2 separate regions of the Homo sapiens genome follow, and region 1 is linked to region 2. A link means that fine-mapping ties the variant in region 2 to the expression of a gene that starts in the linked region. Tissue or cell type: whole blood. Region 2 holds a variant in brackets; the other region holds the start of a gene. All regions are shown on one strand. Distances are from middle to middle.

Region 1 (8,813 bases), 22 kb after region 2:
CCACACCACAGACCACGTAGCAGTGATTAAAGATAGCAGCAAGTAAGCAATTAGCCTTGAAGTAATTATTCTAATTAGTCCAATCAGAGTCTGTTTTAATCTGCCCCATGCAGCCAACAGGGAATAGGAGAATGAATGACAGATAAAGTGATATGAAGATAAAAAATATTTCCCTAAAGTACAGCCTTAAGAGGGGATCCACCCAGGCCTAACATGGGAAGGTTACAAAAAACAACTGACGACTAGGTTTGGAAAGGAGTTTGAAGCACTTCCAGAAGATTCTGTGAGGCCTTGTTCTAAATGCCCAGGTTTAGACACTGCTGAGTCAATGTTTGTGACGCACCAACATCCATGCTGATCACTATTAAATATAAAATTGTATTCTTGCCATGCGGTCTTAGAGGGGTACAGATACCATTGCCACCAACACCAACTGAAGTCTAAGATGCCTACTACTAGAATCCCTCCCCATCTGCACCGCACCACTGTTTTCACCAGCCCCTCCCTTCCAATCTGCAGCTTTACTGCTCATCACCTCTGGGCTAGGATCTGTACCAGGAAAAGAGAAAGCACCACTTCTTACCAGTTTATATGCAGGATTTGACGACGGGCACTACTAATAGGCAGGTGTTCACCCACCTGCATACCAAGGTAAGCTAAGTATGCAGGTGCAAGAAGATTTAATTAGTGGAAGGGTCCAGACCCTAGAGCAGTGACTCTCAACTAAGGATTCTGCACTTCCCCTGCCTCGGCATTTGGCAGTGTCTGGACACTTTCTGGTTGTCATAAAAAACACTATTGGCACCTAGCAGATAGAAGCCAGGAATGCTGCTGAACAGTCTACAATGCACGAACAGCCTCAACAATGAAGCATTATCAAGCCCTGAATAACAATAGCACTGTTGAGAAGCCCTGATCTAGAGTTCACCAGAGCACCCTCAACCACAGTCTCTACTAATGAACTCCATCTGCCTCCCATCAACATCCACCCCCTCTTACCTATGGCTACTCCTGCTACTGCAGCCAAAGACACTGCTGTTGTGTATTTCTCCACCTTTCTCTGCTTGGCTCATTCCTAGTCACTTTTCACATTCCAGTTCATTTCCTCCCCTAAACTTCCAACACTCCAAAGTGGAAAAGATGTCCCCCTTCAGTGTGCTTCTGCAGTTACCTTCCTGGGCTATAACTTATCCTCCTGTCTGAGGCCTCCATGGGGCTTGAACTACACGAAGGGAAACTGTCATGTTTCAGGCTCCACCAAATCCCTAGTTCCTTCCCCAGTGAGAGAGCAGGGGATCACTGAGTGGTTGTATATGAAAGCAAGCACCCATTTAAGTACCTACCCTGTGCCAGGCCCTATCTTAGACAACAAATCACCACATTTAATTCTAATAGGCTTTGGAAGTTGGCATCATCCCCACTTACAGATGGGAAAGCCAGCTCAGAGAACGCCTACAAGATCCCAAAGCAAATGAGAGAAAAGCTGGATTCAAAGCCTGGGGCAGCACTTTTCAGGACATGGCTGAGCCTCCCACACTAACACCACAGCCAAGTCTGAATCCAGAAAGGGTTGACAGGGACTGGGAAAGCTTTAGGACTTTACTATTCTGAGGAAAAGATGAAGAGAATTTTCCTGATGATGCAATCCTGTTGCTGATCACTAACAGACCTGCATACTAAGAACTCGAAACTTCTGTTCTTAAAATACAGGGTGGGCATGTGTTAAGGAGAGTAGTAGTCCCAAAACCAAAAAAAAATGCCTTGTGATCCCCTCATTAAGCACCAGACCACTACTAGACCTCCTGACAACCACCCTGAGGGCCAATGACTACGCAGAAAATTAATATCCCGCTAAGAGACCAAATGGTCCTTGTGTGAGGTAATTTTTGCACTGAGAACCCGTCAATGGGGTCAGACCCCAACCTGCCTTACACAGCAAGCACCCGGAGAGGGTGTGTCCTGGAAATCCCATCTTAAAGCATTTTGCCAAGACATCCATCTAGGAGCGCCATGAAGATCTGAGAAGCTCAGAAGCCCATTATAAGAAGGCATCTGACAGCTAGGCTGTCCTCTAAGTTTCAGATGCCTAAAGAGCTAAAGTATCGCTTCTGCTACTACTGACTTCCCACCTTCCCACCAGGACGTCTTGGACATTACAAGGCTCTGCTGCCATCCCCAACATGGAAGCAGCCTCAGCTGTTAGACTCAAATGAAACAGATGACCTAATCTCATATCAAGAAGGCTCCAGGGACCCTGCTTCTCCTCATGACTTTGGCCCTACTGACTCACTTCAGAACCTGGGCTGCTCACGACAAAAGCCCAGTGTGTCCTCAACCTTGTATTTGGTGGTGGTCAACCAAGCTGCTCTGAGAACAGCTGCGGTCTAAACCTAAGATGTTTTGGGTATTACTGAATTACATTACTAGGTTTACCTTTTTCAGGACTGGAAGGAGGCCGCTTCCAAATAAATTTTCACTTCACATAAACAGCAAAGGTGTTCCCAATGGCAATCTCCTCTGGGGGCCAGGGCACTGAGCTAATTCTCAGCAGGATCTGGGAACCGAATATAGGCCAAAAGCCTAAGTTCTGCTGCTCACGCAACTGTAAGGCCAAACAGTCAAGAGACCAGCTGTATTCTGTTGTATTCAGTCCTGACTACAAGTAACACGTTCTTACAAAGAACTGATGGGCTCTTCTGCAGCCAGGAGGGAAGAATTTTAAGAGTGTGCTGCTCTGTATGCCTGGCCCAACCACTAATCTGTTCAACTCCAGGGAAGTCACTCCCCCTCCTGGGAATGGAGAATGTGCTTCAATTAAATAATCTCTGGGGCCTTTGCCTGTGACTACTTTCTCTGTTAAGGAATCCAAAAATGGCAGAACAAGAAAGACTTTTAGATAAATTAAAAAAAAAAAAAATTTTAAAGCATAGATTTGTAAATGGAAGGCCAGAATGGAAAACCGGAAAATCACAAAGGGACTTATGCTAAGAAATGGATGGTGGGAAAAAAAAAAATCAAAGGGAACAGCCTTCTGAAAAGATGGCTTTCGATGAATTCTCAGCCAAGTCAGTGATCCCGTCAAACCTGCCTTCGGGGACAGGATTTCCACATCGGTTCCCTATTTTCTTGCTATAGGTATCTTAAACACAAAACCCTTCTCTCGCTCCCTACAATCTACAAACAGAAGAACTGGTCAGAACTGTAAAAAACGCAGACTCCTACGGGCTGCTGCTTTCTGGGCCAGGGTGGGTAGCTAAGGCAGCAGGCGCAGGGCCGCCCCCTCCACCCGGGTGGGTTACCTGAGCACAGTCACGCTTCCCCTGCGCACCGGCAGGGAAAGCACTGGTTCCGACACCCGAATAGGCTTGAACTGGAACTTGCAGCCGAAGCACAGCGCAGAGTCGCTAAAGAAGGACACGGACACGATGGGGCGCTCGAAGATGTGGATGGGGTCCACGTGAGACACGATGCAGCCGCCGGGCTGGTAGTCGTTGATGACGGCGCTGTTGACGAAGCCCTCGGGGATGACGCGGTGCTCCACCAGCTTTTGGATCACCAGCTGGTGCACCCACTCGGGGATCTCGTCCACGTCGCCCGGCGGGTAGAGGCGCTCCTGGCCGGGCCCGCGCTTCTGCAGCTGGGCGCCGTAAGTGTAGCCTTCGCCGAAGAAGTACTTGTTGCGCAGTGGGGCCCGGTCCACCGTGTGCTCGTTGTACAGGCCCTTCTCAGCGCGGGACACCACCTCGTCAATGCGGGCCTCGATCTTGGCGCACTCGTCCTGGCTGAAGAGGCGCATCTGGCGGATGCCGCTCTTCACCTTGCGCGCCTCCTCCTCCTTCTGCAGCTGCTGCTCCTCATAGTCGCTGCGCTCGGGGTCCGAGTCCTCCTGATACTTGCGCTTGGCCCCGGACACAGGGTAAGGTTCGGCGGCAGCGGCGGCTGCGGCTGCGGCGGCTACGGCGGCTGCGGCAGCGGCGGCGGCCTCCCGGCTGCCCGCCTTATAGTTGTCCCGGGACGTCATGGACTTGAGCTTCTCACGCAGGTCCGTGTAGCCGCTGGCGGCCGCCATGGCCCCCACGACGCTGCTCTAGGGTCCTCCGGGGCGGGCGGGGCAGCCGGGCATGGCTCTAAGGGGACGCGCCCCGGGGCCCCCGGAGGGAGGGGGGTCCTTAGCGCCGAACCCCCATGCGTGAGTGGGGGACCCGGCGGGGGGCGTCGAGGGTCCGGGCGTGGGGTAGGGCCTCAGGAGCGGCGGGTCATGCAACGGTGGCGACAACGGGGCTTCTTCCTCCTCCACCTTCTCCACGTCCCGCGGGGCAGGGGCGCCGGCAGCGCCTCATGCCGCGGAGGGCTGCTGCGGAGACGCGGCCCGACTCCCGACCAGACCCTCGGACGCCCGGCCCGGCCCGCACTTTAAAGCTCTCCGCACGACGTCACGGGCAGCCAGCCCGACGTCCGCCAGCGCCGCTCCTTAGCGGGCTCCTCACCGCGCACGCGCAGTGCTGCCGGCCACCGCGGCTCCGCGCGCTACGGGCATGCGCGTGCGTGCAGGCCGGGTCGGCAGAGGCGCCGGCGCAAGCGCAGACAGGAACCGCTTGCCGTCCGCCGCCCCTCCCCCACTCTCTGAGGGGCTTCAAGGGAACGCTCTCAAATAGCAACCTGTCTTCACGCCGCGCCGCCTCCAGGACCGAAGGGCTCCCTCTACAGGGGTGCGCTCATATTGCCAACAGTGTCGCCGTGCCGCGTCACGGCATCGTCCGAACGCCCGCAGACGCCTCAACCCCAGGGCGCATTCACCAGGGAACCGCCACAACGTAGGCCGCTCCGTTACCTCCCCCTTTGGCGCTTCCACTTCTTTAATTGGGCCGTGGGCCACGCGCCGGGCAGGCCCTGACTGGAGTTTCCGGAAGTCGGTTGGTAATCATGCGTGTCAATCAGGCAGTCTCCTTAGCTACTGTGTCCGTCACTTAATTAGCGGCTGGGCGAGCAGCGAGGACCCCTAAAGGAGAAATGGGTGGTTAAATAAGTGCCTGAATGGAGACTCCACCTGAGTAAAGCCCTTAGAACGCCTAAGGAAACTTCTGAAACCCGCGAAAACTTCTCAGACTGCGGGACCTGCAGCACCCGGCCCCAGTTCTGAACCCAGATAGGAACGTCCGGCAGAAGCCAGACGCGCGTTGTCGGGGTACAAGCCAGCCTGCCGCCGCTGCCGCCGCCGCCCGGAGCGGACGTTTCACGAGTCACGTCCCGGTGACGGCGAGCGTGGGGGCGCGCTGGGGTTGGCGTCGAGCCTCCTTGGTGCTGGAGATGGGCGTGGGGGCACCTCCTACGGGGACTCTGGAAGAAAACTCCAGGAAACGAACGGGCGCAAGGCTAAGGCTAAGCTATAGATAATGACTACAGTCAATTCAAAAAAGTTTTGAAGCAGTCAGCAAAGGCGTTGCCGGGCGCGGGGCCTCACGCCTGTAATCCCAGCACTTTGCGAGGCCAAGGCGGGCGGATCACTTGAGCCCAGGAGTTTGAGACCAGCCTGGCCAACATGGCAACCCCATCTCTACAATAAAATTTTTAAAAATGAACTGGGCGTGGTGGCGCGCGCCTATGGTCCTAGCTACTCAGGAGGCTGAGGTGGGAGGATCCCTTGAGCCCAGGGGATTGAGGCTGCAGAGAGCCGAGCTGGCGCCACTGCACTCCGGCCTGGGCGACAGAGCTGCAAAACAAAACAAAAAGGCGTAGCCGTGCAGGATGCACTGGAGGGCTCCAACAAATGGGGGTCGGGGGGGATCTGCTGGAAAATCTCCCATGTCTCCCAGGATAAAGTTCCCCTGCTTTATTTGGCACTCAAAGCTTTTCTTCAAGACTCTTCTGGCCTTGGCTCCTCCTCTCCTCTCTTTCCATGTACACTGAGCCCCAGCCTGGTCCTCATCCTGTAAGCCAGGTCTACAAACATACTGTGTCTCACCTCCTGGCCTTTGCCCAGGCTGTTTGCCATGGCTGTTGCCCATGCCAGTTCCTTATCACCCGTCTCCCTCTCTCTCTCCCCCTTCCCCTCCTCCTCCTCGTTCTTTTTTGACAGAGTCTCTGTTGCCCAGGCTGAAGTGCAGTGGCACGATCTTGGCTGACTGCAATCTCGACCTCCCGGGTTCAAGACATCCTCCCACACCTCAGCCTCCTGAGTAGCTGGAACTATGTAGAGGCGTGTACCACCACACCCCGCTAATTTTTCTGTTTTTAGCAGAGATGGGGTTTCACCATGTTGTCAAATTGGTCTTGGAACTACTGGGCACAAGATCCTCCTGCCTCGGCCTCCCAAAGTGCTGGGATTACAGGCGTAAGCCACTGCGCCCAGCCTGGAATGGACATTTTTTTAAAAAGCTTATCAAGTTTTTACTATGTGCCAGGACCTGTGCATATACTAGCCCAATTAATCGTCCAAACAATTCAATGAGGAGGGCATTATTATTATTACCATTGTATATATAGGGAAACAGGCCCAGAGAGGTGAAATGACTTGCCCAAGGCCATACAGCGAGTATGTGGCCTAGTGATGATTCAAACCCAGGCTGCCTGGTTCCAGAATCTGTGCTGTCCCTCACCGGGGCTCCGAGAGGGGAGAGTCCTAGCTCAAGAGCAGTCAGGGAGGAACACAGGGAAGCTTCCAATGCAGTGTCCGTTATGGGAGAGGCTGTGTCAACCTAGAGAAGAGGTGATTCACATTTTGGCTCAACCTGGATGATCTACTTCCAAGAAGCCGCTTGTAGTCTGTGTGGGAGGCCCCAGTTGTATTCTGAAAGCCAAAAGGGCCCCCTCGTTTTCACTCTGCCACATCATCCCTTCCTGAGCCTCATAGTTCAGCTTGACTAGGGAAAAGGTTTTGGGGCAAAAGAATTAGCCTGACACCCCCTCCCCCTCACACACACCATGTATGATCTCACAACAATGAGAAATGAGGGGCAGAGGGCAGGCCTCAGGGCTGCCTCATGTTGGAGCCCACTGTGCTCTGTTTTGGGGGTCCCTATACTGAGCATCAGCGCCGCAGGCAGAACCCCAGGGGTTAAGTGAGCTGCTGCCAGGCATGGCCCCTGCACAGTGGTAACTTGATTGACACCACACTCTTTCTGGTGAGTTCCTTACTTTCCTCACCTTGGGGTCTGCTTCTGGGGAAAGCCAACCCAAGGCAGTGGTGAAAAGCAGGACAGCCCTGTGGCATTTGTATCAGGGGCTCTTTCTTGATCCTCTCCATCCCAGGATGGTCTGATTGACCCCCTAGTCCTGCCAGCTGGGCCTTCTAATCTCTCCCCAGTTACCAACTTCTCCCCACCCATCACCACCACTAGAATCTATGACAAGTTTTCCAGCTAACACTGCAGCAGCCCCCTCTGGTCTCCCCAACTCCTACATTCACTCACCGTTCAGTGGTCAGAATGGCTTTAACAAAGTACAGTCTGTGCAGGTTGTGCCTCCCCTTCCCCCTCTGGAAAACCTTTGAAGGCTGCTCATGGCTCTTGGGATGAAATTCTAAATTTTTTTTTTTTTTGAGACCGAGTCTCGCTCTGTCGCCCAGGCTGGAGTACAGTGTCGCGATCTCGACACACTGCAACCCCCGCCTCCTGGGTGCAAGTGACTCTTGTGCCTCAGCCTCCTGAGTAGCTGGGATTACAGGTGCATGCCACCATGTCCGGCTAATTTTTGTATTTTTAGTAGAGGAGAGGTTTCACCATGTTGGTCAGACTGCTCTCAAACTCCTGAGCTCAAGTGATCCACTGGCCTCAGCCTCCCAAAGTGCTGAGATTACAAGTGTTAGTCACCATGCCCGGCCCAGAAATCCTAAATTCTTTTTTTTTTTTTTTTTTTTTTTTGGAGATGGAGTCTCACTCTGTCACCCAGGCTGGAGTGCAGTGGCATGATCTTGGCTCACTGCAACCTCTGCCTCCCAGGTTCAAGCCATTCTCCTGCCTCAGCTTCCTGAGTAGCTGGGATTACAGGGGCAGGCTGCCCCTGTATATTATTCTTATTTTAGTAGAAACGGGGTTTCACCGTGTTGCCCAGGCTAGTCTCGAACTGCTGAGCTCAGGCAATCCGCCTGCCTCAGCCTCCCAAAGTGCCGGGATTACAGTCATGAGCCACTGCGCCTGGCCCAGAAATCCTAAATTCTTAATGTAGCCCAGAAGCCCTATCGAAACCATCTTTGCCGGCCTCTTCAGTCTCAGATCCTGCTACAAGTAATGCGCACCTCAGGGCCCCTGCGTATGTTGTTCTCTTTCCTCTTTCCCTAGCTAACTCCCACTCACAGGTCTTATCCTAGTTTGCGGTGATTTGACTGTGATTAACTGCCAGTGCCTGGTATTTGCCTCATTCACAGTAGGTATTTAATAGCTATTGAATGGCTGAATAAGTAGATAAATCCTTTCTCTGCTGCCATGGATCTTGCAGCTATGCCCCCATCTACCTATCTAGTCTCCCCAAGTGTTCTCTGCCCCGCACAAGCTCCCCAAAGCACCAGCACTTTCTATCAACATTCACTCGTTTATTTTTTCATTCATATGACAAATATTTTTTAAGTGCTTACTCTCTGTTAGGCATCCTCCTAGGTTCTGGAAGATACAGCAGGGAATAAACATGATTTTCTCTGGAATGTTTATCCTGCTGTCTTCCATCTATTCTTAGCAAACTCCTACTCATCTTTCAAAACTCAATGCTAATGTCCCATTTTCCAAGAAGGCTTTTCCCAAACTTCTCCCTTGTACCACTCTCAAACTTGTGTGGCCCATCAAGTGATGGGGGTCTGGGGTTGGGGATACCCAAGGAGTGGG
Region 2 (8,813 bases):
TTTATTGTAGAGCACACATATCAGGGCGAAGTGCTGCACACACAACTACAAATCATTTTTGGGAAAAAAGCTGTAAAAAAAATAAAACTGCAACTGCTTTAATTATGCAGTCCCGACTTGAGAAATCCACGCTGGCAAAGGAGTTCTGGCCCCTGAGAGGGGCTTCTTGATGGTGGCTGCCCCAGATTTCTGCAGCCTATGAGGTCTCAGACCCGGACCTCTGTACACAAAGCCCCCAAAGTGGTGGTATCCTGGTTGCTGGGAGGGCCTCTGCTCTTGGCAAGCCCGGGTCCTGGCCTGGCTGACAAGAAGACATTCCTAATGAATCTAGATCCACAAAACCTTGCTGCCTTCCAGGATCTGAGTGGATAGAAGCTACCAAAGACTTTACCTTTTTTTCCTTATTATTTTTTGAAAGCCCCTTCACCAACTCCCATACCCTGAAGCGGAGGAGGCACCAGCCCAGTCTGCAGGCCTGAGCTCTGGCCTTGGATGCATGCTGCCGGCAGACAAGATGGGGCAGGCGCCTTCCTAGAAGGATGACATGAGGATGAGGCCCAAGCTGGCCAGTGGAGAAGGGAAGGGAAAGGAAAAAGCCAGGAGACTAAAGGGGGAAAAAAAACTCAAAAAAGAAAACAAAAACCCTACCACACACCACAACAATTTTCCATACCCCAAATGCTAGACTTGGAAGGACACCAGTCCCTCTAGCTAGAAACAATTTCTAAAACTGACCCAACGTGGCAAGTCTAACTGTTCCAAATAATCACACGCATATGCTCAAAAGGAGCAACCAGCAAAGAAGTGTGCTCTTGATAAGAGAGGTCAGGACCACTGCACTAGCCCCTCAGCAGCCCAAGGAACTGTGGACATGGCAGGCTAGTGGGCGTGGGTGGAGGACGCCTGGGGGGCTTAACAATAGCTTTGGGATGGCAGGGGCTGGCACTGTTTAAGCCCCTGCCCAGGCAACCTGAACAACTCTGCCGCAGGAGGAAGAAAGGGTGTTTGCATGAGCTTGCAGGGCGTGGATGGCAGGTGAGAAGTGGAGAACAGCAGAGCCTGTGAGGCTCCAGGAGACCTCAACCAAGTGCAGACATCAGTGAGGGAAAGGGGCGAGCAGAAGACTGAACTTTGTTTAGAACACTGCGAAGATTTACACTGAAAGCAAAATAATTTTCTTAACCAAAACATTTTGTTGCTTTTAAATAAACCCAGCCTGATACAGCCCCACTTAAAAGATGGCTGCTCTGCTCCACCACCTCTACTGGCCACTCCAGCATCAGCCTCTGTCCCCTATTGATGCCAACAGCCTTTCCATCCAGGAGGAATACCAAGAATATGAGAACCTAGGTCCTGGCCAATTCTATTCTTCAGCCCTAACAGGCAACAAAACCAAGGAAAAATATATAGAATCAAAAAAAACAAAAAACAAAAAACAAAAACCCCCCAATGAACAAAAACAAAACCCTCAAAACAAAAGGAGGGGCAACTACGTAAGGATGAGCCAGAGTTCCCAGGAGGGCGGCGGGTAGACTCAGTGCCGCCGCATCTTCACCTTTCGGGCAGGGCTGCCTGCTGCCTCAGAGCAGTCCTCTGAGGACTCGTATGACTTGCGCCAGTAGTTCTCAGAGCTGAAGCTACCCCTCCGCCGGTGTGTGGGCAGCAGCACCGAGCGCCGGTTCTCTTCCTTGTCCATCTCCAGGATCCGTGGCCTGCAAGGAAAGGGAGGTAGGACGTTATCTGAGAGGCTGGCAGGAGGCGCCTGGCTTTACCGCTGTACCTCGTCTCATCCTTGGGATGGGTCACTTCAGCTCAGTGGTCCTCAACGAAGGGTAGTCCTGGCAGAGGCCCTGGTATCGGAGGTTCTTGCCCACTAAGTGCCAGTGACCATCCCAGTCTTTGGGACATTTCCCAATTACCCTGTGGGGTCTGCCTGGCTTGGAGTCTGGTGCCCTGGGACACTGCCAGGGCTGCTGGACAGAGGTCTTCCCTACCACAGCCTCAAGACTCTGCATGGTTCTGCCATCTACCTTTACTTCCCAGCTCTACCCACTTTCTCTCTCTTGGGCCTCCCAACACCCCCTTCTCCACTTACTAACCCCATTACCCCCTGAAACCACAAAGCTCTTTTGTATCTCAGGGTTTAGCTCATACAGTATTTCCTGCCTAGAATGCTCTTCCATGTCTTCCTTATCCTTCTGGAATCAACTTAAACATTACCTCCTTGGAAACCTTCCCCAACACTTAAAAAATATTTTTTTTTTTTTTGAGACGGATTCTTGCTCTGTCGCACAGGCTGGAGTGCAGCGGTGCCATCTCGGGTCACTGCCAGCTCCGCCTCCCAGGTTCACGCCATTCTCCTGCCTCAGCCTCCCGAGGAGCTGGGACTACAGGTACCTGCCACCACGCCTGGCTAATTTTTTGTATTTTTTAGTAGAGACGGGGTTTCACCGTCTTAGCCAGGATGGTCTCGATCACCTGACCTCGTGATCTGCCTGCCTTGGCCTCCCAAAGTGCTGGGATTACAGGCGTGAGCCACTGTGCCGGCCAAAACATTTTTTTTCCTTTAAAAAAAATTATCTCCTCAAATACCTTTTATCCAATCCTTTTTGAAATAAGTCCCTGGTTCACTATTATCCAAGTCCCAAGATTCCCTCCTGACATCTAAGTATAATTCCACAAGGGTGTCTGGGTGAGACTGAACAAGGAAAGTCATGGGAAAGCCATGATATTGCCATCTGTTACAGTCTCTGCCTGACCCCTTCTCTCTGGGTGTACAGGCAGTTGGCCAGGGTTAGATGGGAATGTCACCAATGCCACCAACCCAGAGGAACCAGACATAAGGTTTTGAAAGGGTGAGCAAGCCAAGGCTCCTAAACAGCCTACCCCAGGCTTCTCCACCCTTCTCACCCTGCAGCCAGGCCTTTGCCAGCCTTTGCTGAGGGTCCTAAACTGAGTACCTGTGGGCAGCATCAGGGTCTGCCTTGCGGTGGGACCGCTTGGGTTTCAGAGCAGGGTCCCTGTTGTTTCCTGACAGGCGATCTGAAGCATAGCTGGGTGGTAACACGGAGCTGCTCAGGGACTTTGTTTCCAACCGGGGTGCATCTAATCTTGTCCTGCAAAGGAAACATGCATGGGGTCACCAAAGGGCCTCCGGTGAAGGTGTGGGCACCATCAGACCAATTCTCTGGCCAGGCCAAGTGGGAGCCAGCTAGACCTGGAAGCCAGCAGTCTCTGCTCTGTACCTCACTCTCCTTGAGGTTCAACTAGAGATTGGTCTAGCTGACTTTCAAAGACCCTCCTCAAGTCCACCTTTAGGAGTAAGGAATGGGAACACTTCTGTCTGGAAACTCCCAATGACAGGCTGTGCTACCCTAGGGGCAAGATCCCAGGGCTCGCTCTTAGCTGAACCAAGCAGCCTCACCTCACTCCACTTGGACCCACAGGTTCTCTGGGGCCATCTACTTCATTTGCCAGAGGACCAACGGCCCCACTGGTGGGTCCCAACACAGGAAGGATCCCTGGTCCAGGCCTGTAGAGGGGCTGGAGAGAAAGAGAGCCAGAGCTACCCTATCTTCTCACTGTGCAGACAGGGATGCTGAGACTGAGTGGCAGAGCCAGGGTAGGGAACCCAGGCCCACTCCACAACCATGAGCAGTCATCTGGCAGTTTCTGCTCATTTCAGGATGCTGACAAGGTAAAGGCCAGAGGGCTTTTGAAGGCACAGTCCCCACCAAGCAGCAGGTGTAGCCATAGGTTTCAAGGAATACACTGCCTAGTAAAGGGAAGGCACACAAATACAGATGAGGAAGAGGGGGATGGAGAAGCTGGGTAGCGGTAACTCAGGGCAGTGATCCAAGTCCTTTATGAAGCCAGAACAGAAGGGAGCTGGCATGGAAAACCTCAAAGCCCTCAGGCTCCTTGTGTGGTACAGAGAAGGCTGGCAAGTCAGGCAGGTGGGAGCAAAGGGCAGAAGGACCCATGTAATAGACTGGGTGGGAAGCGATAGGACATAGCTAGCAGAGACCCTGAAGGCACCTTTTCCAGGGTCTGCTAGACACAAAGTAGTAACTTAGTTCCGAAGGAGTAGGGGCTGCAGTCAGAGCAGGACTCTAAGGATACTAGAGGATGCTGGGGAGAAGTAAGCAGGAGGGAAATCCAAGAACTGCCTTGGGCTAGGCTGCTTGGCATCCTTGGTAACAACTGCATCTGGTCCTCAGTTTCCCCCATTCCCCATGGCTGCCTCTCCACATTCCACTGGCTGGCCTACTGTACATAGATGGGAAGGATCAGAAAGGCAGTAAGTCATGCATCCTGCAAGTCACGGGGGAAAGTTTAAAGCCAAAGTGAGACTTCAAGCCTGACAGGCAAGAGTTACTCTGAACGTGGGTAGGAAATCTCTCTCCTAAAGGCAGCAGGGGCATCTCCTTCCTTCCAGCTGGGAACCAATGTTCTGATGCCTCAGGCCCAAACTGGTGGGTAGGCAGGTAGGACAGGCATCCCCATCCCTTTGGGTTGGCCTTGCAGAGGGGGATGCCAGTAGGGCCCAGCTGCAGTGAGTGACTCTTCAGTCTCAGACTCCACTCTGGACTCCTCCAGACTCATGGATGCAGAACCTAACATCAACAGGAGGATGATCTAGTTTTGGCACTGCCATTCAGAGTCCAAGCTAGTCACCATCCCTCCTCGGGCCTCAGTTTCCCCATCTGAGCAAAAGAAAGAAATGTGACTAGCTCTAAGGCTTCTTTGCGCTGAGGGTCTAAGGAATCGAAGGCAAGTTGCCTCCTTCAAGGCTGGGATTCTCTGGGTAGAGGTGGTACTGGGCAACTACCAGAGATGAGTAT[G/A]TGAAATAGAATAGAACCATTCTTTTTTTTTTAAAGAGAGATCGTGTTTTGCTCTGTCGCCCAGTCTGGAGGGCAGTGGTATGATCATAACTCACTGCAGCCTTGAACTCCTAGGCTTAAGGGATCCTCCTGCCCAAGCCTCCCAAGAAGCTAGGACTGGGCCACCATGCCCGGCTAATGGTTTTTTTTTGGCGAGACAGGGTACCACCATTTTGCCTAGGCTGGTCTCTAACTCTTCTAAGTGATCCTCCCACCTCAGCCTCCCAAAGTGTTGAGATTACAGGTATGAGCCATCAAGCCCGGCTCCAGATGAGCTTTTTATTTTTATTATTATTTTTTGAGACAGGGGCTCCTTCTGTCGCCCAGGCTGGAGTGCAGTGGCGGGATCTTGGCTCATTGCAACTTCAAGCGATCCTCCCACCTCAACCTCCCAAGCAGCTGAGATTATAGGTACCCGCTGCCACACTCGGCTAATTTTTATATTTTCAGTAGAGACAGCATTTCACCATGTTAGCCAGACTGGTCTCAAACACTGGGGCTCAAGCGATCTGCCCATCTCAGCCTCCCAAACTGCTAGGATTATGGGCCTGAGCCACCACACCTGGCCCAATTACCTTTTCTATTTTTTTTTTTTTTTAAGAGAGTTTTACTCTTGTTGTCCAGGGTGGAGTGCACTGGCACGATCTTGGCTCACTGCAACCTCCGCCTCCCGCGTTCAAGCAACTCTTCTGCCTCAGCCTCCCGAATTGCTAGGATTACAGGCATGCACCCCAACGCCTGGCTACTTTTGTATTTTTAGTAGAGATGGGGTTTCTCCATGTTGGTCAGGCTGGTCTTGAACTCCCGACCTCAGGTGATCTGCCCGTCCTGGCTTCCCAAAGTGCTGAAATTAAAGGCGTGAGCCACCACGCCTGGCCCAATGACCTTTTCTTTACCAGGCTTCGTGTCATCAAGTTGAGAGGTCCAGGTGGCAGAAATCAGACTAAATAAAATGTTAGCCTTTATACTTGACTTAAAGGACTCTAAGGGCCTCATTGAAGAAAGTCCCTCCTCTGGTACCCATAAAGCTAAGACTCTATAGGTGCCAGGGAGCCCATGTTCAGGGAAGGAAGGCCCCTGTGTGCCCCAAAAGCCCCAGTGAAGCCCTAGTGGGGGCACTCTGGAGTTGTTTCTTCGGGTGAATGATGGATGGTAGGAGAAAAGCAGAGCCACCAAGATGAGAGCTCTTGACACATCCCCTGGGACTGTTATAAGTACATCTCATAACAGCTGGAGAAGCTCCTGCCCTCCCTACACTTCCAAAAATTCACCAAGCTGCAGGATGCCAGGCTAGAGCTTGACTCCAAGCCCAGTGCCCACCAGTAGCTTAACTTCAGAACATGCCCCTGTTAAAAGGCAACCAACTCTCATGGCGTAGGCCAGGTCCTCAGGGTTTAGCAGAGAGTCACAAATCTGGATTCAGGAGGCTCAGTTCTAGCAGTAAGGTCTGGACCCAGGCCTCCTCAGGTGGCAACAGGAATGAAGACCTGCCTTACAGATGAGTCAGTATTCAAAGGTCAGAGCAAAGCACCTCGGGCATGTGACCTCGGGCATGTGAGGTTGACCGTGATACCCAGAGCGGCCACCTACCGTGTCAGGACAAAGCAGGGACAAGGGAGGTCACAACAAAGGATGGCTGTAGCACTAAAGTGTGAACCGAAGGGAAGGGAGGGAGTTGATCCTATCCTAGGTCCTCCAGAGAAGCTGCTGGGGTGAATTATTCTCCCTGTAGGGACTGGAGAGCAAAGCTAAATCCCAGAGCAAATCACTAGCTTGAGTCACAAAGCTACTACCTACTACTCTGTGATGGCCTCTAAAGCACAGGTGGGGCCAGGCACAGTGGCTCACACCTGTAATCCCAGCACTTTGGGAGGCCAAGGTAGAAGGATTACTTAAAAGCCAGGAGTTTCAGACCAACCTGGGCAACAAAGTAAGACCTTGTCCCTATTTAAACTCTTTTTTTTTTTTTTTTTTTTAAAAGACAATCTTGCTCTGTCTCCAGGCTGGAGTGCAGTGGCACGATCTTGGTTCACTGCACCTCCACCTCCCAGGTTCAGGCAATTCTCCTGCCTCAGCCTCATGAGTAGCTGGGACTACAGGTGCACGCCACCATGCCCAGCTAATTTTTGTATTTTTAGTAGGGACAGGGTTTCACCATGTTGGCCAGGATGGTCTTGATCTCTTGACCTCATGATCCGCCTGCCTCAGCCTCCCGAAGTGCTGGAATTACAGGCGTGAGCCATCGTGCCCGGCCCTAATTTTTTTTTTTTAATTAAAAAATAAAGTGCAGGTGGGCCCTCCTCAGTGCAAGAGAACACTGTGCATGCAGGTGGCAGCACCACCATTTCTGGGAAGATGGTAAACCAGACCGCACTCAGGCCACGATGACTCTGGAGCGAGGGCAGTCCCCAGCCAGCTACCAACTACTCTCCAACGTCTGGCACCACCTTTACCAGGCATCCTTGTGCTAAAAGCTTGGCTTTCCAACAAAGCGAGGCAGAGACCAGTATTGTGGGCCTGTCCAAGCACCCTCTTGCCTATTTAGTAACCTGGGTCCCTAGAGCTAAGGTCTAAGCTCCAGCACCTTTGAGAATCAGACTCCCACAAAGCTCAGGTCTGTACCTTGCTGGCTCTCCTGCAGTAGTACCCACTCCCCTCACGGGACTCTCCCCACCCATCTTCCACCAGCCCCCTGCCAACATCAGACTTCTGTTTTTTTTTGTTTTTTGTTTTTTGTTTTGAGTCGGAGTCTCGCTCTGTCGCCCAGGTTGGGGTGCTGTGGTGCGATCTCGGCTCACTGCAACCTCCGCCTCCTGGGTTCATGCCATTCTCCTGCCTCAGCCTCCAAGTAGCTGCAACGACAGGCGCCTGCCACCATGCCCGGCTGATTTTTTTTGTATTTTTAGTAGAGACGGGGTTTCACCGTGTTAGCCAGGATGGTCTCGATCTCCTGACCTCACGATCCGCCCGCCTCAGCCTCCCAAAGTGCTGGAATTACAGGCGTGAACCACCGCACCCGGCCAATTAATTACTTTCTTTGAAACAAGGTCTATCACCCAGCCTGGAGTGCACGGGTGGGATTACAGCTCACTGCAGCCTTGACCTCCTGGGCTCAAGCAATCCTCCTGCCTCAGGCTCGCGAGTAGCTCGGACTATAGGTATATGCCACCACACCTGGTTTTTTAAATCAATCAATCAATCTATCTATCATCTATCTATCTATCTATCTATCTATCTATCTATCTATCTATCTTATCTATCCTATCTATCTATCTATCTATCTATCTATCTATCTATCTATCTAAGATGGAGTCTCACCCTGTAGCCCAAGCTGGAGTGCAGTGGTGCAATCTTGGCTCACTGCAACCTCTGCCTCCCATGCTCAAGCGATTCTCCCAAGTAGCTGGGACTACAGATGCATGCTACCACGCCCGGCTAATTTTTTGTATTTTAGTAGAGATGGGGTTTCACCATGTTGCCCAGGGTGGTCTCAAACTCCCGCGCTCAGGCAATCCGCCCACCTCGGCTTCCCAAAGTGCTGGGATTACAAGTGCGAGCCACCGCACCCAGCCAGGAAGAGTTTAGAAGACCACCTAGCATTCACAAGTTTAACCACAACTGCCCAATTTACAGGTGCAGATAAGACTGCATTTGGAGAGGAGTGGCAGAGCCAGGGCAGAAGCCCAAGTTTGTCACCTTCCTGGTGATCCCATTGTACCCATATTCCTTGGGCAGGCCACAGACACATCAGAACAGTCAGGCTGCCAAAAGGGCAGGGTGTATGCACGTGGACACAGACTTACTGAACCAGGGAACAAATGTAAGCTAAATCTAACCACAGGAGACACAAATCATGGAGAAAGGAGCAACACCAAGCCCTGGTCAGAGAAACTAAGAGCTAGCCACCCCTCACCCCACTGCTGAGGAACG

What was found.
Region 1: it holds the start of ALKBH5, and the variant in region 2 is fine-mapped to the expression of ALKBH5 in whole blood (INTERVAL, PIP above 0.99).

Annotation. Positions count from the first base shown.
Region 1 is chr17:18,179,500-18,188,312 of GRCh38, reverse strand. ALKBH5 (alkB homolog 5, RNA demethylase) reads right to left here and starts at 4,485. Exons shown (of 4, transcript NM_017758.4): 1 at 3,300-4,485. The coding sequence starts at 4,069. It overlaps MYO15A (myosin XVA), which reads right to left. Exons shown (of 66, transcript NM_016239.4): 66 at 8,513-8,813. RefSeq lists silencers at 2,335-2,384, 3,608-3,759, 3,918-4,007, 4,088-4,387, 6,524-6,818 and enhancers at 3,653-4,490, 4,598-4,837, 4,898-5,097.
Region 2 is chr17:18,201,118-18,209,930 of GRCh38, reverse strand. ALKBH5 (alkB homolog 5, RNA demethylase) reads right to left here. Exons shown (of 4, transcript NM_017758.4): 3 at 2,961-3,116; 4 at 1-1,712. The coding sequence ends at 1,535. Among named protein-coding and RNA genes, the nearest start is that of LLGL1, 20 kb to the left of the region's middle. The variant G/A (reference allele first, on the strand shown) is at 4,845.